Linked DNA regions of Homo sapiens: region 1 is linked to region 2. The links come from fine-mapping of genetic effects on gene expression. A gene starts in region 2. The other region holds a variant in brackets. All regions are shown on one strand. Distances are from middle to middle. Region 1 overlaps ZNRF2 (zinc and ring finger 2). Region 2 holds the start of ZNRF2 (zinc and ring finger 2).

Evidence for each region.
Region 1: its variant is fine-mapped to the expression of ZNRF2 in whole blood (INTERVAL, PIP above 0.99).

Annotation. Positions count from the first base shown.
Region 1 is chr7:30,363,986-30,376,843 of GRCh38, forward strand. It overlaps ZNRF2 (zinc and ring finger 2), which reads left to right. Exons shown (of 5, transcript NM_147128.4): 5 at 2,050-3,704. It also overlaps the pseudogene DKFZP586I1420. Among named protein-coding and RNA genes, the nearest start is that of LINC01176, 20 kb to the right of the region's middle. The variant G/T (reference allele first, on the strand shown) is at 7,818.
Region 2 is chr7:30,275,172-30,288,029 of GRCh38, forward strand. It overlaps ZNRF2 (zinc and ring finger 2), which reads left to right and starts at 9,426. Exons shown (of 5, transcript NM_147128.4): 1 at 9,426-10,655. The coding sequence starts at 10,187. It overlaps LOC124901607 (a long non-coding RNA gene), which reads left to right. Exons shown (of 3, transcript XR_007060274.1): 3 at 9,028-9,083. It overlaps LOC105375218 (a long non-coding RNA gene), which reads right to left and starts at 10,914. Exons shown (of 4, transcript NR_136267.1): 1 at 10,889-10,914. RefSeq lists an enhancer at 4,179-4,298 and silencers at 6,219-6,278, 9,272-9,701, 9,712-9,761, 9,842-10,231, 10,312-10,391 and 1 more.

The DNA.
Region 1 (12,858 bases), 89 kb after region 2:
CCGGCTTTTCTAGGAGGCTGAGACTGATGGCAAGGAACTAGACCAGATGACGTCCAGAGGTCTAGTCCTGTGTGGTACCATTTCCTTTTATTTCAATAACTTCTCTTAAATTTGAGAATAAAAGTGTTGAGGTAATAAACACCCTCAAGGAATTCTGTTGCTGTATTGGTGGAAGATGATTTAAGAGTAGCAGATTAGAATATTGACAGAGAAGATTTGAGATAATAGCAGCAATAGCACCTGAAATGAGAACTGCAGTTGAGTGTCATAAGACTACGCATGTGCATGTGAAATGTGGAAGCCTTGGTAGACTGCAGAGTACTAAAAGACTGCCAATTTTAACCTTTCCTGTGAACTTACTTAGATCATGCCTTGACACATTTAAAATATGAATTGAGGCTGAACACTAATTGCTTGAGATAAGGAGTTTGAGGCTGCAGTGAGCTATGAACACACCAGTGCACTCCTGCCTGGGTGACTTAGCAAGTCCCTGTCTAAATAAATAAATAAATAAAATGTGAATGGAAGTAAGAATGCTAGGTAAGAGAAGTATAGTGGTGGAGTGGTATTTTGAATATATGTGCACATATGTTTTTATTTCACCATAGAAAAGGTTTGGAATGCCTTCATTGTCACCTTATGTTTGAGACAAAACGAAACTGTGGCTAAAATTATAGAAGCATTTTAAGGGAAGTACTGAAACTGATGCTAACAAAATGAAATTTTTGTCTTAGTATTTTACATGCCAAAGTAATACATCTAAATCCTTCATCTATAGATAAAATTTGTCTTTTTAGTCTTTCTTAGTGCATTTTGGGCTGCTATAACAAAATACCTTAGATGAGTAATTTATACATGACAGAAATTTAGTGCTCACAGTTCTGGAAGCTGGGAAGTCTAAGATCAAGGTTCCAGCCAGTAGATCTGGTGTCTGATGAGGGCTCATTGCTCATTTATGGCACCTTCTGTGTGTCCTCACGTGGTGGGATAACAGACTCCCTCAAGCTTCTATAAGGATACTAACTGCATTCATGTGGTCAGAGCCCTCATCACCTAATCATGTCCCAAAGGCCCCACCTCTTAATACTATAGCACTGCAGATTAGGTTTTAACATAGCAATTTTGGGAGTACACAAACATTTAGACCATAGAGCTGATAAGCTTTTTTTTTTTTTTTTTTTTTTTTTGGTGAGGTGGAATTATATTGTATAAATTTTTTTTCTTTCATCAGCTAAATTTTTCCTTTAGTGTCACAGTGAGCTTATGGGATATGTGGAGCATACATCTCATCTCATAGCTGAAATGCATATGTCTGTTGGTCTTCAACAACATTTCCATTTTCTTATGTTACATATGAGTGTTATATTTGCTTATTTGTTTGTTTTCGAATATAGAACCTGAATTTGAAACTAGCCTACTACATGGGCAGGGTGAACTCTGTTAATCAGGTGTCTACAGAAATCTGAACCAATGGAGTCTGCTTCTGTGGGTCTTGAAGAGTCATTTTTAAGAGTTTATAGACATGGAATATCTTGACTTGTACATTTTTGCTTCTGTCCTGACTGTTCTTATTTATCAAGTGATAAATTCTTGTATACCTTTTAATAGTCCTAGATTAAAGGTATATGGGTTTGAGGAGGATTCAGTGTTGTTAAAACATTTTGTAAGGCACTGTGTAGCCATAAAGCTCAACGTTTCTGATATCCTTCAGCATAAGAATTTAATAATCAACCCAAAATAGAGAGACATGAATATTTGTGGTCTTGATTAGTTAGAAAATTGCTGTACTTATTTTGGGGTTTTTAGTTATTTGGGAGAAATATTTTAAATCTCCGTGTGTGTGCATTCTTTACTTGCGTGTAGTCCTTATTGTGAAAGGGGGATGACTTTGTTATGTATTTTTTGTGACTAAACTTTAATTGATCCTTCTGTTTCTTAATCTGTTCTTCTCCAGATCACTGATTTTATGAGTTTTCAGAATAGTAAGTAAGGGTATGAAGACTTACAGTAACTAAAGCAATGTTCATGGGGAAATCTATTTTTACACAGGTTTTCTTGTCTTGACAAGATGCTTGAAAAACCAAGAGGATATGAAAATCTGTCTCTGGAGAAACAAAGACGCAGGCATACTCAGCCAGAAATCTGAGTTTTGTGAGACTTGGTAATACAGAGATGGACAATCGTACTGGGGTAAAAAAACCCTGCTGAAGAGAGGACAGTGACCACAGAACTCAGTGTACCAAACATGCATACAAAGGACACACAGGGATTTTGAAAATGCTGCACATCCCTTAATAGTCATCTACATAGGTAATACTGATAAACATTTTGTATTCAGACGCCAAAGTTAACTGATTTAAAAGTTGATTTACTTTTTATTAAGTTCTCCAGAGCTGCACAACTAGTTATGTTTTGATTTGTTTTGTTTTTTAATTTGGGGTCTCTTTGTTTTCCCCAACATAATGTTCATAATGTTTCTGCATTCATCTGTTCTTAAATTGAAAAACATATAATTTACTTCTTATAAATTGAAGTCTTAAATGTGAAACCAAGAAATGTAATCAAGCAGTAAAAACATCTGAATGTAGACCATGATCTCAAGTTCTTCCATTTTCTCCCCCACGAGTGGAAAATAGACTTCTACATAGGAAAGCTAAAATATGTTAATATTTTTAAATTAAAGGTTTAATATCAGAATGCAGTCCAAAGAGCAAATCATATTACATAATTACATTTTAATTAAATATAGAATATTCTACTGAATTGCAATTTATTAAATATTCTTATCCTCTTAAATAAAACTGCTCAACAGTTAATCAGCAGTGAATCATCTTGCAGCTATGCAATTTAAAAAAAATACAGATTACCAATTTCAAGTGCTGCCAGCTAAAATAACTGTTTTAACGGGTATCTTTTGTTTGTTCTTTTCACTTAATTATTTTATTGTGCTTTGCATCTCCAGGCAGTTCTCTCACATTTGGGTAAAATGTTTAGCAGGCTGTAAACTTAAGAAAAGGGTAAAATAAAATTTTCTGGAGAGGAACTTGGAATTTGAGGGAGATTTTATATACCTTTAAAAACTGTAATTTAATTGGGATGCCAGGTTTATAGCAATTTGCAACTTTAATTTTCCAGATAATCTGGAGGTTAGCATTTGATAAATGATTTTTTAAAGTAGATATGAAGATTTTGTTAATTTATAATTTATTCATGTGTTATTACTGTAATTGAAAATGTTATAGACACTTTTAAATTCAGTTTGTGTAGAAAGAAATGTGTTAAACAAAATTATGTTAATAAATATTCCCACATAATACATCTGAATGGTTAAAAATACTGGAAGAGTTGTCAGGGCTACAATAGTGAATGTCCTTTTTTTTAATATCAAAAATATCGATAAGTAGGTTTTGTGTTTTCAACGTAGGGAAAATGTTATCAGTGAATAGGTGGTGTACTTTACTTGGTATAATTTAAAGTTGCACAGTAAGTACTGTTTCCTTATTTTAATCTTTCTTTACTCATAATGTATTTAAGAATTTGCTGTTTTATTTAACGCTGCTACTCTTAATCTTCTCTAAATTTTTCCCCCTACTTTCTTGCTTCTGTTTCACATTTTTTAAAAGGGCAAGTACAGGAGCAACTGCTGCTACCCAGAAAAATGTGTGTATTATAAATAATTAAAGAGTTTTTAATTGCTTTCTGTATGATTCCAGCTCAGATAACATTTTCCCTGAAGTTATGCTGTGAAATGCCTTTTGTTATGCTGCAATTGCTAAAGGAATCCAAAACCTCCATTGTGACAGCTGAAGGCACAGTTTAATAGGTGCTTTTTTACTAGTTATGAAAAATATTCGTCCCTTAAGGAAACGATTCTTTTTCTGTTTTTTTCTGTTACCATGAAGTCTTAATTTGATTTCATTTTATTTCACATTTTTGATTTTGTAAGCTTTCATACCCTCCTGCTCAACCCCCTCAAGTAAAACCTCTTAGAATGTGAATAATTGGTTCATTTTCTATTGCTGGTATACTCTTGTGATGAGAATTATTTTGTTGTCTTCCATTCTTAAAGGAAGAGATTTATTACAGCTGTGGGGATTAACTGTATTCTCCTGGAAGTTGATTTTCTGATAGGTTAATGCAAAAGTCATTGCAAAAACTGCTATTACTTTTGCGCCAATTTAATAGTTCACTTGTTTACTTTTTAACCTATATTGGCTTAAATTCACTTTTTAGCCCCTCTTTGTCATAAGGTTCTGTGCTGCATTTGCTACAATAGAAGCTCCTATGGTTTTAAAGAAAGTTCAGTGTTTTGTCAGTGTCAAGTGCTACTTGATGATTATATTTGTCTGGAACAGTATTCACTTAAGTCTGTTTATAGCAATCCCTTTTTTGACAAAATTTACAAAGTTGGCATTTTTACTTTAAATTCCATCTCTATCAGTGACTTCCTAAAAAGAGCAACTTAGAAATTGGGGGAAAAATGTTTTTAAAGCCCAAATGCTCCAGTTTTTATTCAAAGTCAAAGTCGTTATTCTGGAAAATACAAGTAATGTTCTATATAATGTCACTTAAAATATTCGTAAATCTATTTTGCAAACACTGAATAGTATAAGTAAGATATAAAATCACAATAGATATTTAAATACTAAGCTGAAACTTCTGACAACTAATTATTATGGGGGACACAATAAAGATTGAAAGCCTAGGTTACCAAGTTGGTTTTAGCTTTCTAGAATCTTTGTAAATACTCACGTTCAAATAAGATCACACGTGCATATATAGAAAGCAATATGTTCTGAAATTTCACTTTAGTGCCACTGTTTGTCCATAATGGATTTATTGCCAATTTTGAATCCTCATCTTACTTTGATCTGGCTTTTTTTTCCCCCCCTTGCCAGAATGTTTAGGAGAAAGTAAAATTATTCCGTTTTACTTTGGCTTTTTGCCAGAGATACAAACTAAGAATAGTCTGAATATGTGTTTTTCAGATCTGGTTACAAGACGGATTATAGATTGTGTTTTAGAGCAATGTTGTGATTGAAATATAAATAATGGTATAACTTTTTTTGTGTTAGCAAAAACAACATTAAAAAGGTTATGTTACATAATATGTAGGTTTTGGTTTCTTAGTGCAAGACTTATATTTCTCTTAAATGTTGTATAATTATTTCAGTTTTCACTCACTAGCTACTTTACTAAAATGTAGCCCCAAAATGACGGGCCAGCCTCAGCGTATCTGCCATATGTATTTCAAAGATTACAGTCAGAATGAGTTAATGAAAATGGCAGGTTCCTTTTCAAAGTTTATTTGACTCACAGCCATATTGCTAAGTTTGGGTATAGTGAAGTTAACAACAATCACTTAAATTAATATCTTACAGCAAGATATACTGATACTGTTTTAAATGAAAAAGACTGTAAATTCAATGTAAATATTACCTAACTTTATGTACCAAGTTAGGAGAGTGGAAGAGGGGAATTTTTCAAAAAATAAGCTGTATTTGAACAAAGCATGAAACTTGTTGTTTTAAAATTTAAGAATAATTGAATTTACCATCTAATTGGCATCCGTACTGTGCATTGATAGTAATATCCAAATCATCTTATTCTTCCATAGAGGAAGCGCTCATATAAATCACATTGCTGAGAACTATATAAAACTACATAGAGGTAAATGGTGCTTATTAAATATGAGTATAGTTTGTTACTTGCTGGAAGTCTTCTAGTTCATTTGGACCATTTTCTTACCCTGAGGTGAACTCAATATCTGTTGGCAATGGGTGGTTAAATGTGAAGTGCCCTTGTTCAGTGTCCCTTGTTCTTGTACAGGTATTTTCTTAGTTTAAAAAAAAAATTCTAGCATGCCAACATTTGTCTTTGGCCTATTCCTTTTTTTCTGAAGTGTGTAACTTCTGATTTTTTCTTTGCTATGTTGTAAATAACAGTAGCTAAATTCTCTGTTTTACTATCTACTTTTCTTTTCTTCCCAGATCATTTCATTCTAAAATTAAATTGCTTGGTTTTCTTTAGAGGAAATTGCTACATGGTATACTTGTAGTAGTGATTCATATTAAAAAAATAGCTGGTAAATCTTTCTAGGTAGTAACTTATCCAAACAATACTTTGAGTATCATATTTTGTGAATGACTTGCTTAAACTGGGAAACTGAATATTCTTTTTAAATCATATAATTCCTGTATTAAATGTGAAACACACAGTCTCCAAAGTCACCTGATTCTCTGTGGAAAATGAAAGGCATTGAAGGAAACCAGATACATTAATACTTAGTTTTGGTTGAAAGTGCAACATTACTGTACTTAGAAGGGGCTTGGTTTATTTTTAGATATTTAAGCTATCATTAATTTTAGACCAATGGCTAATAATAAGAGAGATTTTTGGTTGCTCATTTATGGAGAGACAAAGAACAGCATGGCATAAACAAACATCCCAGAAATAAATGAAAAGTTTTAAGTGATAAAATTGTGTTTTCTATGAACCAGTGTTGTACATGAACCAACATTGTGTTTCTTAGCTCTGACCTGTACAGTGAGGTACCTGTCAGGACCCCTAGTCTTGGCACTGGAAATGACAAAGTTCTCCTATTACTAAATTCTCATGCCTTCCTTTTCTGACTTAGTAGATTGAAATTGGTAGGTACTAATGATTTATGTTTGATAAACTTAAGTTCTGCTGATATCCTGTTACTGGTAATTCTGGTACCAAAATTTCAAACGGTTTGATTATTAGTAGCATTTTGAGTACCTAGGTGCATATAATACAGTTAGCAGACCCTTACAGAGTCAAAAGAGATTTTGGAATCTGGTGATACTGTTGTTTATTACACTAGCCTATTACATTTTCTTTCTTTATAATAACTGTTTATGTGAGTTTCATTGAAAATCGTGGCTCTATTGCTTTATTCATGGTTTCCACAACTCTTTTTGTAACACCTTAATTTTCTCTCTTAGGTATTTTCCTGTTAAATAAGATATCAAAAGCATCAATCACAAGACAGAGAAAACGTATTAGGAAAAACTTGTATTAGTATATTCTAAACTGAAATGGAAAAACTCATTATTCATATTTTAATAAATAAAACTCCCAAATGATCTTGCTAAATTATCCCACTATTTAGAAGTAGAAAATAAGAGAAGAGTGCTTTCAAGGAAATTTGTCATATTCTCCCTTCTATCTAGAAGTTGACAATGAATTGCAATAAAACTAAGAAATAACTGAATGCTGAAAAATACCATGAATTAATGTTATGGCTTCTTTATTTTTGTATATCCATTCCCACAAAATTGAATTTAAGATTATTAATGAAAATTCTATATTAAGTAATAATGCTTGTATTAGTAATGGGTAAAGAAGTCTTTCTTTGTTACATTAACCGTTAGTAAAAGATGTACTTTGACATTTCTGATGTAAAACCTATATGTAAATATTGTAATTTAAATATGATTGGACAGCTGTTAAGTTTTGGGGAGGGAAGCAGATGCCAGCGTTCTCTGCTGAAAAGACAAGATGGCGCTTGACGGACCACAGCAGATGGAGCTGGAGGAGGAAAAGGCAGGCAGTGGACTCTGCCAGTATTATCTGTCCAAGATTGAAGAACTCCAGGGTCAACTGCAATATAAATTGGATGGGGGAAAGCCACAAGGAACAGTTCTGAACTCCAGGTGCATTTGCAGCTGATTTTGAATGATAAGACCCAAAACCTCTGGAGGCGGCAGGTGCACGGGAATGAACTAAATGTTAAAGTGTGCCTATTACAGGAGGAGCTACAGCTGCTGCAGGAATAGGACTCCTGTGTCAGG[G/T]AAGTAGTCCAGGCCATGGGTAAGAAGAAAGTGTTGGTCAAGGTGCATCTCAAGGACAAGTTTGTCATAGATGTGGACAAAAATATCAGCATCAGTGATGTGACACCCAGTTCCTTGGTGGTTCTAAGAAATGACAGCTACACTTTGCACAAGATCCTACCCAACAAGGTGGACTCATTGGTGTCACTGATGATGGTGAAGAAAGTACCAGATTCAGCTTATGAAATGATTGGTAGACTGGATAGGCAGATCAAGAAGATCAAAGAAGTGATCGACCTGCCTGCTAAGCATCCCGAGCTCTTCAAAGCACTGGGCATTGCACAGCCCAAGGGAATGCTGCTTGGAAGAGACTGTTGGCCTGGGCTCTGGCTCATCATAGGGACTGTGTACCTTTATTCATGTCTCTGGCTCTGAATTGGTACAGAAATTCATTGGGGAATTTCTGTGATGGCAGAGAAAATGCTCATCTGTCATCTTCATGGATGAAATTGACTCTTTTGGCTCCTCAGAGCTGGAGGGGGATGCTGGAGGGAACAGTGAAGTGCAGCAGATGATGCTTCGAGGGTGGCTTTGAGGCCACCAAGAGTATCACGGTTTATCACGGCTGCTAATACGATTGATATCCTGGACTCGGCACTGCTTTGCCCAGGGCACATTGACAGAAAAATTGAATTCCCAACCTGCAATGAGTAGGCCTGGCTGGTCACTTTGAAGATTCATTCTCAGAAATGAACCTGACCCAGGGGATCAACCTGAGAAAAATTGCTGAGCTTATGCCAGGAGCATCAGGCTGAAGTGAAGGGCATGTGCACAGAAACCGGCATGTATGCCCTGAGTAGCGAGTCCATGTCACTCAGAAGGACTTTGAGGTAGTCCAAAGTCCTATCTCATGCCAAAGGACAGTGAGGAAAAACATGTCCATCAAGAAACTATGGAATTGAGGGCACATCCTTTGTGTGTATCCCTACAATAAAACTCAGTGGGACAAGCAAAAAAAAAAAAAAAAAAAAGTTTTGGGGAGGGATGATCTGCTAGTGTATAATCAATAACTTTTAACATTTAGCTTGTATTTAGTAACATTTCATTGTGTTTTGAAAAAAAGTAAAAAATCTTTTGAAGCACAATTTTCATGATGTAAAAGGTATTGAGTTTCCTAGTGTAAGAACATGAATTCTGGAAACAGTCTTAGGGACACTGGGCAAGATAGAGGCCTCCACCCCTCCCCCCCCCACCAACTTTGTTTGTAAAAGGAGATAATACTGCCTACATCAGGGTTGGTGTGAGGATTAATTAGAAGAGTACATGTATGTAAGCACCAGACACATAGTAAGCACTTAATAATGTTAGTGGCTAGTATAAACAGTAAACATATTTGTGCCCATTTATGAATAATTTTAGTATTCGCTCCAGTCATGAGGTGTAGTAGTAATATCTAAGACCTTAACTGAAATGTTTAAAGAAACCTAGGTATAACAGAGAACATTATGGGTGCTGATTTCCACTCTCACTAAAAGCCAGTGACTTTACTATATCAGCAAGTATAAAGCACTACTTGACTCTGTAGATTGTATGGACCAAGAATGTAGATATGAGACAGCTGATCTCTACGAACTGAATTTTTAGTGAGTAAAGCAAGCAAGCATGTAATAGAGAACAATAAAAGCTCTGATAGACATATGTACAAGGTGTTGTAGAGGTACAAAGGAAAGTTATTCAGACTAGGCAAGAGAGTGATTAAACTTAAGTATTGAAGAACAAATAGATCATAGCTCTAGGGGATGTGGAACATACAAAGTGGAAAGTTTGGGAAGAGTATTCCCAAGGCAAAAAGCTTAGCACATACAAACATAGGAGGAAAGCGAGACACTCTTAAAGAGTTGCTATGCTTTGGGAGGTGGAGGCGGGCGGATCACGAGATCAAGAGATTGAGACCATCCTGGCCGACACAGTGAAACCCTGTCTCTACTAAAAATACAAAAATTAGCTGGGCGTGGTGCGCGCCTGTAGTTCCAGCTACTCAGGAGGCCGAGGCAGGAGAATTGCTTGAACCCAGGAGGCAGAGGTTGCAGTGAACTGAGATTGTGCCACTGTACTCCAACCTGGCAACAGAGCGAGACTCTTGTCTCAAAAAAAAAAAAAAAAAAAAAAAAAAAAAAAAAAAAGTTGGCCAGGCACGGTGGCTCACGCCTGTAATCCTAGCACTTTGGGAGACCGAGGCAGGGTGGATCACCACCTGAGGCCAGGAGTTTGAGACCAGCCTGGCCAACATGATGAAACCCCATCTCTACTAAAAATAGAAAAATTAGCTGGGCATGGTAGTGTGCGCCTGTAGTCCCAGGTACTTGGAAGGCTGAGGCATGAGCACAGGAGGCGGAGGTTGCAGTGAGCTGAGATTGTGCCACTGCACTCTAACCTGGGCAATAGAATGAGACTCTGTCTCCAAAAAAAAAAAGTTGCTATGTCTGAAGAGGTAAACAGGTGATAAATCATGAAGAGATTTGTGTCTGAAACTGTAATTGAAGGATTTCAAACAGGAAAAAGATAATCACATTTATACTTAAGATTAGAGAGGTATGATACTGGAGGCAGAGAGACCTGTTAGAAAATTTATACTAATTCAGGCAAGATGATGAAGGGCAGAACTAAAGCAATGAAAATAGGGAAAGCAAGTACAGAAGAACAAAACTTAAAGATTTAGAGAGCAGCACTGACCCAGCTGGGACAAGTTCTAGTTGTCCATTCTATTGCCAGTGCTGCAGAGTCCAGAGGCAGCACAGTGCATCATTTGGTGAGGGAGTTCACAAGGGAGAACCAAACTAGCTTTTATAACAGACCCATTTGTGGTAACTAACCCAGTCCCTTGATAATAACCATTAATCCATGCATAGATTAATCCATTTATGGGGACATAGATAGCCTTCATGACCCAATCACCACTTAAAGGCCCTACCTCTTCGTACTGATACATTGGGGATCAAGTTTAGCACAAGTTTCAGTGGGGGCAAACATTCAAATCATAGCAGTGTCTATTAGGCTGCAGGAGGTGTCTCTACCCAAATGTCGGTAAGTATGTGATAAGTGGGATAGTTGAGCTAGTTTAACGATGTCTAGGTTGGTTGGGTTGGACTTTTCCTCGTGTCACCTCCCTGCTTAGCTCTAGCTGCTTATTGGAATGCAGCCGTGCTTTCCTGGGTTTACTTAGGAAATGCTGAGATGCACTCTGAAGCATTCTTGAGGTTTTCCCTTTGGTTCATTTGTCCCATACTCTCTCCGTTATACCAGTCTTCTCAGATCTTCACAACACAAGTAAATCTGTTGGAAGCAAGGTCTTGTAGATGTAGACATATGGGAAAGATAGAGCCTGCTCTCCTGATGGATGCTGTTGTTGAGATAGGTTGGGTTGGCCTAGGTAAGAGGAGGACCAGAAGAGATTTATGATTTCTTGGAAGGCTATGAGTTGCTGCTGGCCCCATCATAATCTTTTTTGTTTAGCAGAAGTCAGGAAACGAATACTGGTACACTTACATTTCTTGGAAGAGCAGCAGAAACCTTGGGATATCCTTGTGGGTCAAGGAGGCAACTCTCCTCACGGATTCCCTGATTTGATAACAACATACTCATGGAAACACCAATCCAAGTTTTCACAAGTTTCTCTTAAAGTTAACTTAAGACTTCCTAGACCAAGAATTCCTACCACGCAAGGCCTGTGAAAATATTGTAAACTTAATATCCGACAGGGAGATATTCAAAGATGCCAAAGTACCTGTTTTTATAAATATTACCACATGGTTTAAGATTTGACTTCTCACATAAAATGAGTAAAAATAACAATGATTTTTCTGCAGTACCTTAATGATGCTGTAATTATGAAGCAGGGTTTTAAAATTCTGCCATGTAGTGCCTTATTTTTATAGTAATGTTTTCTATGAACCTTCTAATTTAATGTGTATTAAGAGATTTAAAGAGTATGTAATTAAAAAATATCTTTCCAACAAAGTCACCTTGAGATTTAATGCTTTCTAATTGGCTTGATCATTTGATGGCAAGATAACTAGTTGGGTAACTGAACATAGACTCTACAGTGTTAGCAAATATGAATTTATATTTCAGAAAAATATCAAATAACTAATATCAGAGCCTGTGTGCCTGCCTTTCAAGGTAGTACATTAACACTTGGAATATTAAATCTGTAAATACTAAGGATATTATCCAAATAGATGATATTCATCAAATGGTATATAAAGTTCATCCGTTGTTGGAATTCAAATGTTGCAAAGGCCAAAGGTATTTAATATCCAAACTATTGTTTTAGCATATATTTATTCTTTGAAATCTGGTGTGTATTTTACACTTACAGCCCATCTCTATTCAGGACTATAGCCACATTTTAAGTTATCAAGAGTCATATGTGACCAGTGGCCACTGTGCTGGCAGCACAGGTCTAGATGACTCTGGGAGACACTTCTACTCCTATCTCTCCTTACCTGAATATTTCTGAAGGCCTTCTAATTCCAACTTTGTGAAGACTCTTGGGTCTCTTTCAAAGTTTATTTAACTGCTGCACTTGAGCAGAACTTGTCCTAAATTATTACTAAAATTGAGGCAGTTTCCTCATATTTATTTATTTATTTATTTTTTAGAGACAGAGTCTCGCTCTGTCGCCCAGGCTGGAGTGCAGTGGCGCGATGTCGGCTCACTGCAAGCTACGCCTCCCGGATTCACGCCATTCTCCTGCCTCAGCCTCCCGAGTAGCTGGGACTACAGGCGCCTGCCACCTCGCCTGGCTAATTTTTTTTTTTTTTTTTTTTTTTTTTTTTTTTGTATTTTCAGTAGAGACGGGGTTTCACTGTGTTAGCCAGGATGGTCTCAATCTCCTGACCTCGTGATCCACCCGCCTCGGCCTCCCAAAGTGCTAGGATTACAGGCGTGGGCCACCGTGCCTGTCCCAGTTTCCTCATTTTTAAATGAAAGAGCTGGAAATACCTTTAAAAGGTTGAGGGTCTAATGAATCATCTTCATGTACATTCATAGATAGCATTGG
Region 2 (12,858 bases):
GCCTTAGGAGGTTTTTTGTTTTTGTCCTTTCTTTGCTAAGTCTGTATGTTTTTAATGCAGCACATGTTATTTTCTTGTCTGTATGATTTGCTTGAAGGTTTTGATATTTACATATTATGAAAGAAAATGTCCAAAGTGTATAAAAAACACATTCCTTGTAAAATCTGATTATTTCCTAATGTTCAGGTCTGTTTGTTTCGATGTGGAGGTTGTAGAAGTTTTTTGGCATTAGTATTCTAAACAGTTTAGTATTTGTTCATGTGTACATTTTGCCTATGAGAACGATGTGAAAACGTATCTGCATCCAATCATTTGATCAGTCCTGCAAAAGCTTCTTCCATTCCTACTGTTACTGATGCTGTCCAGCCTTCATTATTTTTTTAATTGAGGTAAAATAGACGTAACACAAAATTTACCATTTTAACCAATTTTAAGTGGTTTAGTGGCATTAAGTACATTCATATTGTTGTGCAGCCTCCTCATTCTTTTTCACCTGGGTTACTGCAACAACCTTAAAAATGCAGTCTTGCTTCTAACTGTGCCGCCATTAAGGAAGGAACTAGAAATCGTATCTCTGCTGACTTATTTTCATTGGTGTATAGAAGAAAAATGGAAAGACAGAAGAAGCATTCTCTGTCATTTCTTCTGTACCTTAGACTTCTGAGTTGCTGAAAATGAAATGCAGACAGTGTTCTCAGGGCCTAAAAAGGACAAGTACCTGCTGTACTGGTTCCATCCCCTGCTGCAGATCATTCCTTGCTCAGGACATTTCAGCCCAAGCATTTGTTCTGAGAACATATAGAAAATAAAAAAATTCACTTGGCATTAAAGGGTCTGGCCACTGCAAGCACAAAGAAGCTTTTAGCAGTAAATTCTATAGCTTTAAAATGTGCTGAAATGATCATTTCAAAAATTAAGAGGCAAAACTCTTAGATGGCCAAACTAAGTTTGTAAGTGAAACATAAAGAAGCCTGAACTGCTTTGGCCCCCACCAGGGCAGCTGAAATTGGCTGGTGTGCACTGAGTCTTCAAGCCCTCTTGGGGGGCAGTAGATGCATCAGAATTGAGGAGCCCACTGCTGCAAATAGCTTCAGTTGGAGCCTTTGGCAGTGCAGTTTTGTATCACTAGATGTCAGTGTGGACTTTCCCAACCTCCGCCTTCTTGCCTTTGCAGGAGGTGGACTAGACATCACTTGGGGGCCTTCCTCAAGTCCTGGCAAACATAAGGCTATTTTCAGAACTGTAATTTCACCAAATATTTTGTCCACCTACATATATTGACTTTTAAGAGTTCTAGAAAATACAAACAGAAACTTTGAACCAAAGGTTGTTCTTTTTAATGCTGTGCCCTTCTAATCTCAATGCTTACATTTGGAAGCCTGCTTACAAGGATGTTCCAAGGCCAGCAATGGAAAGTTCCATGCGGTTCTTTTGACAGCAGCATGCTAGCCCAGATACCTGCAGGCCTAGCTTCAAGAAAGCATGGCTCCCTACACTACCAGGGCTCAGGAGTGAGGGCAGGAAGTCAAGAAGAAGTGTATGTGATTAATGCCGGATGTGGTGGCTCAGGCCTGTAATCCCAGCACTACAGGAGGCCGAGGCGGGTGGATCACCTGAGGTCAGGAGTTTGAGACCAGTGTGGCCCACATGGCAAAACCCGGTCTGTATTAAAAATACAAAAATTAGCCGGGCGTGGTGGCACACACCTGTAATCCCAGCTACTCGGGAGGCTGAGGCAGGAGAATTGCTTAAACCCGGGGGGAGGAGGTTGCAGTGAGCTGAGATCGGGCCACTGCATTCCAGCCTGGGGGACAGAGCAAGACGCTATCTCAAAAAAAAAGAAAAGAAAAAAAAAGAAAAGTATATGTGATTAGCCACATAGGGATTTAGTGGCCATATTTATCAGATTTTTTTTCGAAGTAGTTTGTAATCAGCTGCCTTCTGAAACCTTAAAGAATAGTCATTGTATTAGTTTTCCCATTGCTGATGTAACAAATTATCATAAATTCAGTGGCTTAAAACAACACAAATTTATCTTACTGTTCTAGAGGTCAGAAGTCTGAAATGGGACTTAAGTTGACTCACCTAAAATTGAGGTGTCAGGAGGGCTGTGTTCTTCTTGGAGTCTCGGGGAGAATCCATCTCCTTGTCTTTTCCAGCTTCTAGAGGCCACCTGCATCCCTTGGCTGGTGGCCCTCTTCAGGCTTCAAAACCAACAATAGCCTTGAGCGTTTCTTTGAACCACTCTGACCCTGCCTGCCCCTTTTACTTTTAAGGAATCTTGTAAGCACCCTGGGACCACAGAGACCACCCAGGTCTAGCTCCCTATCTCAAGATTCTGAATTTATTGACAACTACAACGTCTCTCTTGCTTCAGTAAGGTAACATATTCAGAGGTTCCAGGGATGAGGACATGGACATTTTTGGGTGGGCAGAGGCAGCACTTTTCTGCCTACTACAGTCATTACTTTTAAAGTAATATATGATGCAATTTTTCAGGTATGAATTTTTTAACAAACTAATTCAGTGTCACAAACAACTGTTTCTACTGGAGACTATGTTGGAAAATAACAAGGGCTGCATTTCCCTCGCTCATGGAGTGATAACAATGAAAATTAATTTGCCACACCCAGCATTCATATTTGGTCACCTTCCAACTGAACTGAGCACTAACTCCACTCCTTTGTTGACCCCTGTGCTCAGGGTGTCCATCCCCAGAACAGCACTGAGCAGGCACAGGGTGAACACATACAGAGAGAGCTGGAGACGTGATTCCCACACCAAGAAACACTGAGCAAAGTGAAATCCGGTGCGCTGAGGGACCAGACTAGGGTAACCTGTGCATACCCCTGTGCAAATTCAACATACAGCTGGAGGCCTAAAGCCAACAGAACCTAACCCCATGCCTTGCCATAACTACAAGGCTGGTTTTGTTCTGCCTACGTAAAGCTGAATTCAGCTCCCTCTCCTCAAATGTGCTCTTTCCCCCATAGTCCTACTTAGTGCTAGGACCAGGGACTATCTGTCCCTGGTCATCTTGACTCTGTCATCCTTGACTCTTCCTTCTTGGTCACGTAGGACATCCAATTGGCCTCCAAGACCTGCGGTGGCTGCTCTCTCAAGAGTTTTAGAATCTGCCCTACCACCACTCTAATTCAGGTTCTCTTCACTTCTTGCCTGGATGACTACGTTAGCCTCTGGACTAGTCTTCCACTTCACTGTGCGTTCCTCCCTCCCATCAATCCATTCTCCAAAATACTGCTGGAGTTGTCTTTCCATACTGTAAATGCGATCCTGCTACTTCCCTGTTTGGGAAAGTGGTTCCCTTTTGCTTTCTGGATGAATTCCAACTTCTTAGCTCAGCACACCAGGCCGGTTACATGCAGCTTTCCAGCCTATTCTCTCACCCTCTCACCTGTTACTCTTCATTCCAGCTATAATTAACTGCTTGAAGTTCTTCAGCTGCTCAAAGCTCTCCCTTGCTTCATGCTCCCTCAGCCTGGAATGCCTATGGGTGCTGAAGCCAGAAGTCTCTCAAGACTCAGCCCAGCGTCCCTTCTCAGACTACATCTTTGTCCTTCACCAATCCCCATCCCTTCAGTCAGCTCCAGTATGCCTTTACCACATGGTACTCTGACCATCTCTTCATTTCTATCTAAGTCCCTTGATTAGAAGCTATAAGGTTTTTGAAGCTATATGGTGTTTAGTTGGTTTAACTTTACATCCCCAGATGCTCAGCTACTCTGTTTAAAGAATGAAAATATCTCCATTGGGGGTCCTAAGTTATTCCGATGTTTCCCTGCACCAGGTATGACCCAGCTCAGGGCTATGTTCCAAAACCTACCCAGTTTAGACTTGTATCCCTAGAGTTCAGCCAGAGCCCAGCTAACTTCTGGGAAACAGAGGGTGGGGTAAATTGACCAGGAGCTCTTGTTGCTCTATCTTCTCATGGTGGAAGAAAGGCAGTTCTGCAACTATGACCTTACCCTTTCCAACCTGGCCTAACTTGGGGGCGTAGATCATTCAATAGCAACTCAAAGGGAATTGGCCCCCTAATGCACAAACTTGCCCTGGCTGAACAGTGTAGAAGGCAGCCAACTTCACACACAAACTTAATGTGGTGACGACAGTCTGTTAAGTTGGTAGTAATTCCGGACATGCATTAATCACTGCTGCCTGTCCTTAGCGAGCCATAGCTGTTACTCAAAGTCTCTTGCATATAGATTGTCCTTGAGCTCTCTATAAGCAGGCACTCTGGAGAGTTAAAAATAAAGCAGAAATAGAGTTCCTGTACTTGGGAGGCTTAAACAATCTAGTCCTAAAATGTAGGGCTTGCCTTTACGGGGGCTTTTGACTAACTTTGAGGGAGGAAGTGGTAAGGGAAAATGTCTTATAATACGTTTTAATCATTCATGTACAACAGTCATTCACGTACAGTATTCATGATTTAAGCAAGTGACAGGAGGCAGTTTGGAGGGTGCATCTGCACTGGAGGAGGGACCACATGCATTATGTAGCAGAGGGCTATTTTTTCTCCAAGCTAGTCTTCACTTCCGTAGGCTGGGAAAATCCCCTTGGTACCGACCCCATGATACATTTTTCCACTAAATTTTATGTCTTTTCAACAGTATGTCCCCAGTAAAGATCTTGGATTCCTTTCAAAACACTATGTATGGAATCTGAGAGTTTCCTTTATAATGGAGTAAAAGCATCATGGGTTGTGGTTGGTTGGTATTAAGGGTTTTTAAATTAGGGCTCTTACAGATAAAAAAAAAAACAACGTTTGAAAGCCCAAGTGAATTAATTGAGAATAGAACACAATATAAATATTTAAGCTCTTAGTAATACTACATACCATTTTGGCAAGCAAAAATTATTTTTATTAGCAGGTGCTGACATTATATCTCAAGCTGTTTTTAGAAAGGAAAATGATTCTGGAATCTATGTTAAACATAGCCATAGGGCTCCAGTCATTGATTAATTAACATGAAATACTTTTGTGACACATTTAAGTCTATTTAGGACCCAAAGACTCTTTAGTCAAAGTGTTAACTACCCTGTGGAATCAAAAGAAAAAAAATGTTTAAGAGTTTAAATATTGGAGATTTCAAATAGGTAGTCTCTGATATCTTAATGATAATTTCCTTTCAAATTTCATCTATCTAGCTATCTATGAGTATATGTACACACACACACACACACACACACACACACACACACATCCATCCATCCCATGGTGGAAAGATATAGATGTGTCATGACATATCATACTATCATCATTATTATAGCAGTGATGTAAATACTTATTAGTAAACTACTACTAACGAATTATTACCAATACATCCTTATGCATCAATAATGTATTAAAATTTCACAAAATGGTAAAATCAATTTCATTGAGTATTAGTATATATTAAACTGTACAATGTCACAACATGCTAGAGATGATATGGAAATTATTACAATCTGCTAGGGATAATAACATTGAGATTAAAATTTGTTTCTCTATTAACACATTTGAAAGTACTCTCAAATAGAGAATGAATCTTTTGAGAATCATAGCCACTCTGTGAGACTGGTATTGCTATATGATCATCCATGTTTTACAGAAGGAACAGGTTTAGCCAGGTTAAGTGGCTTGCCCTAAATCCCACAGCCAGTGTCAGACAAAGCCAGGGCCTAACCCCAGCTTGAGCTCAACCACTTCACGGCATGTACTTTTAATCCTGTCATGATTGGCTCTTGTCTTTTGCTTCTCATTAAAAAACTAATACAAGTACAGGGGAGGGAGGATAAAAATTTGTTAAAGACATTACATAAACTTTTGATGTTTTCTGAACAATTACCCAACAATGTGACTCCTAAATACTACAAACTAAGATTTTGAATTTAAGATGTAAGTTTCTAATCACCACTAAGATCTTGGACAGTGTATGTAGGATGTATTAACACATATGTAGGATGTATTAAGATTCATTTTAATGTTTAGATGGTCCATTTGTTTCTTTAAAAAGCAAAATAATAGGAAAATAGGCCTATTTAAAAATAGGCAATTATACATATAGTCCTATTTTGGTAGAGATGAGGTAGTGTATGAACACTTACTTGAAAAAAAAAAAAAGCAAAGCCATAACCATCTCTTAAATCCTATAACAAGGGGAAAAGTGGGATGGCAAAACCTTAGCAAAATGTGTAGGGCTACTGCTGGCTGCAGGACAGCCCTGTAGAGAGGCTGTGGTCCCCGACCAAGAGGACTAATGGGTGTCACTATGCAAATTTGCTGTCCCACACATCAAAGGTCTGATCCAGCAGAGTTTTAAAAGAGAAACCAAGAGAGGAAAGAGGAATGCAAAGGAGAGTAAGGGAACACAAAGGGAAGAGGCTTGCCCCAACTAAACTTCAAACTAGACAACAACAAACTGATTGGTCAGGCATTTTTATTGAAAGCCCAGAAGTAGCTTACCTGTTCCAGTGTGAGTTTGTGGACAATAATTTTGTCAATGTGAAGTGCTTTAACAATACATTCAGACTAATTTTGCACCCCCAAAGCCTTTGGTCAAAATATCATTGAACTGCATCAGGAGGAATATAGTGTATTTTAAAACCTTCAAATTTGAAAAATTTTAAAGAGCTGGGGCTCTGGTCTCTTGATAAGTGGTGAAGGCATTAAAACAACAGTTCTGATTGTAGAGGAAAGCGTCATTTAGACCAGTGCTTCTCCAAACAAGAGTCCGAAGTCTGATGGCAGCAACATCACTGGGCAGCTTGTTAGGATGCAAATTCTCCAGGCCCAACCCTGAGCTATGGAATGAGAATCATTGAGGGTGGGGCCCAACAGCCTGTTTTAACAAGGTTTTCCTGTAATCCTTGTGTGTGCTAAAGTTTGCAAAGCACTGATTTAGACTACTGTTTATCAAAGTGCAGATTACATCCCCATAGGGGGGTGTAAAATCAATCCAATAAGCAGTGACCAGCATTTTACAAAAGTGAAGTCAAATAGAAAGCAGAGTGCATTTCAGGTAGCATGGGTATTATCTCAAAAACCCGTTGCAGTTCTACATGTGTGTATACCTGTGTGTACTCATTTGGATGAAGCAGCACTTTTAATTTTTGAAGAACTGGTAGGTATACTAAAGACGTGATGGCCAGGCATGGTGGCTCACGCCTGTAATCCCAGCATTTTGGGAAGCCGAGGCGGGTGGATCACAAGTTCTGGAGTTAGAGACCATCCTGGCCAACATGGTGAAACCCTGTCTCTACTAAAAGTACGAAAAAATGAGCTGGGCATGGTGGCACGTGCCTGTAACCCAGCTACTCTGGAGGCTGAGGCAGGAGAATTGCTTGAACCTGGGAGGCAGAGGTTGCAGTGAGCCCAGATCGCACCACTGCACTCCAGCCTGGTGACAGAGCGAGACTCTGTCTCAAATAAATAAATAAATAAATAAGCGACACATTTTCAACGAAGTCAGAACTGTTTGGTTGACAATAACACACATTGACAGCTTCATGCTGGTGACTGGAGAGAGATGAGAGGGGTGAGGAGAGAGGAAAGAAGGCCAAGGAAAGAACATAGAAGGCCAGCATTTTATCTCCAGAACCTTCGTGGGGAAAGAAACAAGGCTCACCAGAGAGGAGGTGGAAGGGGCACCCACCACAAGCGAAATGTCAAGGAGAATAAGAACATGATAAGTTAATGAGTGACATTCAAGAAAGAATCGTTTTAGTACAACTGGTGAGGATACATGTATTCACTCACTCATTCATTCATTCATTCACAAAACATTTATTGCACCATGGCAAGACCAGACACTGTGTTAAACACTGGAGGTACAGACATGAAGTTTATCATGGAGCCAATTGAGTAGTGACAAGCAAGATATCTAATAATAATAATAACATGATCAGAGCTATGAAGGAGGTATTGTACAGCACTGAGTGGGAACACTGAAGTCAGTCTGTGATGCTGGGATGGGGGAGGAGGTGGCAGGAAACATCTATAAGGAGAGGGCACTTAACCAAAATGATGACCATATCTTAACATGATACTGCATATAAAGCACTGGGTACCTTTGTTTTTCCATGTATATATGTGTGTTTGTGTACACAGATACACGTCTTTATATGTATACATATATTCTCCATTTGTTTAAAAACTTGATTCCCATACCCTAAGAGTGATGAAAATCATTACATAAATGACTTATTGCAAATAGTGAAAAGATGACAAAGTATTTCTGTAGTTTTATAAAACACCACTTGCTATTATTATTTTCAAGTAGAGACTAGACATTTTCATAATGGGAGTCTCAGAGCAGGCTGTTCCCTGGGTATCCAGACCCTGCTCTGCCGTGAAGAGACCACACCAACACTGAGGAAGGCACTGAGGAGAATTTTATTACATTTTAGAGAAGTTATAGGATTTTAAAGAGGCAGGTGCCCTAGGATTTAACACAAACAGTTCAGGTAAGAAACCTAAAGTCGGCCTGGTGCGGTACGTCACGCCTGTAATCCCAGCACTTTGGAAGGCCGAGGCAGGTGGATCACTTGAGGACAGGAGTTCAAGACTAGCCTGGCCAACATGGTGAAAGACCGTCTCTACTAAAAATACAAAAATTAGCCAGGCGTGGTGGCACGTGCCTGTAATCCCAGCTACTCTGGAGGATGAGGCAGGAGAATCGCTCGAACTCGGGAGGCGGAGGTTGCAGTGAGCCGAGATCACACCATTGCACTCCAGCCTGGGTGACTGAGCGAGACTCCGTCTCAAAAACAAAAACAAAAATAAACCTAAAGTCCAAAAAAGTAAAATAATTTGCTCACTACAGATAATTTAGTTTGGTGTTGGGCCTAGATTCTAGGTTTTGTGAGTCAGGTGCAGCGTTCCTGGCACCACAGTATTTGCCCTACCACAGAGGGTCAACCTGGATTATCCCGAGTTCTTCCAACTCTGCGCTTCCTCCCAGGTTGGTGTTTCATGAGTAAGTCTGAGATCAAGCTGGCTTTTGAGCTTCTGTTTTTTTTTTTAATCAGTGTGTAACACCAACACCCACCGAAACCAAACGGCTCTGGGCAGAGGACACAGCCATTCACGCCCCCTGCCAGGAAAAGCTGCAGCTGACACAGGCTCCTACAGCGTCGGCGGGCCACGTGCGGGAGGAGGGGCCGCCTTCTGGTTGGCGCCCGGTGTCCGTTCCTCCTATCGGCGTAGGCCCCGCGAGGAAGACAAGGGCGCGCCCTGGCTGGGAGGGCGTGGCCAGAGACCTGTCCATCACCGAGTCCACGAGTGGCAGCACCTACCACACCGCAGTACCTTGGCGAGGCGGAGCAGGGGCAGGCAGGTCGCGGAAGGGGGAGGCGGAGCAAGGCCGGCGGGAGCCAATCGGCCTGGCGGCACGAGGGGGCGGGGGCGGGGTCAACGCGCGCGACCCAAACACACGGGCCGGGCGCACCCTGCAGCCGCGCCGCTCCGCGGCCTTCCGGCGCGGGGCCGGGGAACCTCCTCCCCATCTGCGCACCCCCCGCCTTCGCGGCCCAGATCCTCCCGCCAGCCCGGCCCCTCCTTCGCAGGGGGAGCGAGGCGACGGTTGCCGGGAAGCGCGCGCCACCTCTCCCTCCCATTTTTCGTTCTCCCCTCGCGCGCCACCCGTTTTTCCTCTTTCTCCGTTAATAACAGCTGGGTGGCTGGGGGAGGAGGGAAGGTGGCCCCGGCGGAGTCTGGGCGGGCGCCTCCCACTCAGCCGCCAGCCGCCGTGGGAGCCGGAGGATGGCGGCGGTAGCAGCGGCCGCCCGAGAGGAGGCGGTGCCGAGATCGGGGGCGCCGAGCGCGGCAGCAGAGAGCGGTAGCGGCCCGTCGTGGCGCACCAGAACCGAAACCAGCGGCAGCCGCACGGCCACTTGAGCCGCCCCTTCCTGCTGGAGCCAGCGAGGGGTGCCTGCAGCCGGGACCCCTTCCTCTCCGCGTCTCCTCGTCTCCCGCGCCCGCGTCAGGCCGTCGGCCTCGCCCGCCGCCCCAAGAAGAGCGCGCCGGGCGCCGACTGCCCCTCTGGACGCCGGGCGGCGGCCCTGGACGTGCGGGGGCCTCTCTGGGCCGGCCGCGGCGCCTGGGCCCTGCCCTCTAGCTCCCGCGCTCGCTCCCGCCCTCCCGGCTCTCGGGGCGCAGCGCGCGGGCCCGGCCCGGGGCAGGGCGGACATGGGCGCCAAACAGAGCGGCCCGGCCGCCGCTAACGGCCGCACGCGCGCGTACTCGGGCTCGGATCTACCTTCCAGTAGCAGCGGAGGCGCCAATGGGACCGCGGGCGGCGGCGGGGGCGCTCGGGCCGCCGCCGCGGGGAGGTTCCCGGCTCAGGTGCCCAGCGCGCACCAGCCCAGCGCCTCCGGCGGCGCCGCGGCGGCCGCGGCGGCCCCGGCAGCCCCGGCGGCCCCGCGCAGCCGCTCCCTCGGCGGGGCCGTGGGGAGCGTGGCGTCGGGGGCCCGCGCGGCGCAGTCCCCCTTCAGCATCCCGAACAGCAGCAGCGGCCCGTACGGCTCGCAGGACTCGGTGCACAGCAGCCCTGAGGACGGCGGCGGCGGCCGGGACCGGCCGGTGGGCGGGAGCCCCGGCGGGCCGCGCCTGGTGATCGGCTCCTTACCAGCTCACCTCTCGCCGCACATGTTTGGAGGTACGGACCCCTCTCCGCGCACCCGCGCTCGGTCCTCCCGCGGCTGCACGTGGGCCGTGGCCGCCGGCTATTTTTACCCTTCTCCTTTTCTCCTTCTGCCGGGGCGCCGGGGGCTGCCTCCCGGACCAGCCCGCGTCGGTCTCCATCCTGGAAGAAACCCGGCGCTTAACACCGGCGGTGCCGCTACCGCATAGACGCGTGGTTTTGTTTTTAAACATCCTGAGCACCCTCACCTCAGCGGCTGCCCAGTAGAGAAAGTCTATTTTCCAGTGAGATGACTGGAGCAAATGTTGTTTTACAACAAACCGACGAAACAGCCCTTGTGGTTGTGGTTTTTAGTACCAGGAAGTCAGGAGGAGACCAGTTGCTAAATGTAGTTCTATCTGGGGACTCGAGTGGGGAACAGTTTTTAAAGGCCAAAAGTCAAAGCGTCTCAAATGAACACTGAGTTACCATGTTTGGACCGACTTTTAGTATAAAGCTGTAATCCTGAAATCTGTGTCAGTAGTCCCAGTTACTATGTCATTTTAATTGGATGAATGCGTTAATGAAAAGTTTGTTTTTAAACCTCACTAAACTGCTACTTAAGATCACAGTTAATGTGAGTCCTGCTTAATTTGGAAAGCATTTAAAAAATGGAAAAGTTTCTTAAGGAAGTAAAAATTTTGCACATCTGTCTTCAAGGTACAATAATTGGCTAGGTTCTTTTGAAGAGCAGTGTTGACTAGAGTTAAGGAAAAGTCAGTTGTGAAAAATGGACATTTTTAATAGCAAAGTGATGTACTTTACTACAGAAACAGGAGGAAGTGTGCGTTGTCCTGGGGAAAATGAATCCTACTTCTTCAGTTATGTTTTATGCTGATCTACTTTATTGCAAAACGCTAATAGTAAATGAATCAAGACCACCTCCCCTCTCCCCTTTATGAAAATAAATAGAAGTATAGAAGATAAGCATTCCCATTTCATCGCATTATGTATCTGGTATTAGAAAAATTAGCAACTGAGCACAGATGAGCAGCGAAAACACGATCCCCTACATTTTTGTGCCGCTTTTACTTATATATTTGTAAACGTAGGAACTTTGGAGACTTAGTAAAGTGGAATACGTAGTAATTTATCCGTTCTCATGTTCTGTACTATCAGCACACACGCCAGCATAAATTAAAAACAGGAATGTCATGTTTCATTTTTCCCATTTTTTTAGTAACGCTTTGCAAATTCAATTGGAACGACGCTTGACTTTTAATTAGCTACCTTGTTTTAAAGTAATTTTTGCTTCTTAAAAATATTCATCCCTCTTAAAATTGGGCTATTTTTAAAAGTCATTTGCTTTTGATTTTGAGTAAAAGAACTCTACTGGTGTCCTTAAAGTGATTTGATCACAACTAACCTAACAGTTGAAGTTGCTGTAGTCCGCACTGAAGAATATAAAAGGCAGTTTCTGAGAATTGGTGATTAGTGCGAGAATGAAGGGCAAACTGGTTTTTAATGTTTATCATTATCTTTTTAAAGTGAAAATTTGCATTTAGCAATTATTAGAAGATGAATATTTAAGTTTGCTAAAGAAGGGTGAATAGGAAAAGCCTTGTCAAGTTAATAGTTAATATTTATTTAATATGCTGATTTCTAAAAATTCATTTTCTAAGAGCTGATAATTCCCTTTGAGAAACATTATAGTTCTGTGGGTTTATTTTGTTAAGTAAATGCATTCTATTCAGAGCAAGAGACAGTTGAGCCCCATGCTATTCCTAGTAAGTAAAAATACCTAGTTGCTTAAAGTTGGAGATAAAGCATTTATCTTTTTTCTTATCTAAGTTCTAGATTTGTGCACTCATTATAGTTCTTTTAGTGCTGTTGGGGTTGGGTGACTGGGGCCTAGTAGTACAGTGACACTTTCTGAGGAACTTACAGCAGCCTTTCTCACCCGGCTTTCTGGAGACAATTGTGCCGTAGTGTGCAATGAATTTTAACTTTTAGCTCCAGTGCATTTAGAACGGTTTTAGTTATGTATCATTCTTGGAACAATTGAGAAAAGTCACTGAAATAATTTCCTGTGTTTGGTGATTCAGATGAGGAACCTCAGTTGAGAATTGCTGGAAAGACATCAGAGAAATTACCTGTTCTTATTATATGACAGGATCAGATGAAAGTGCCACATCCTGAAATCTCTGTTGAGGCAGGGAGATGGAATACATTTACGTAA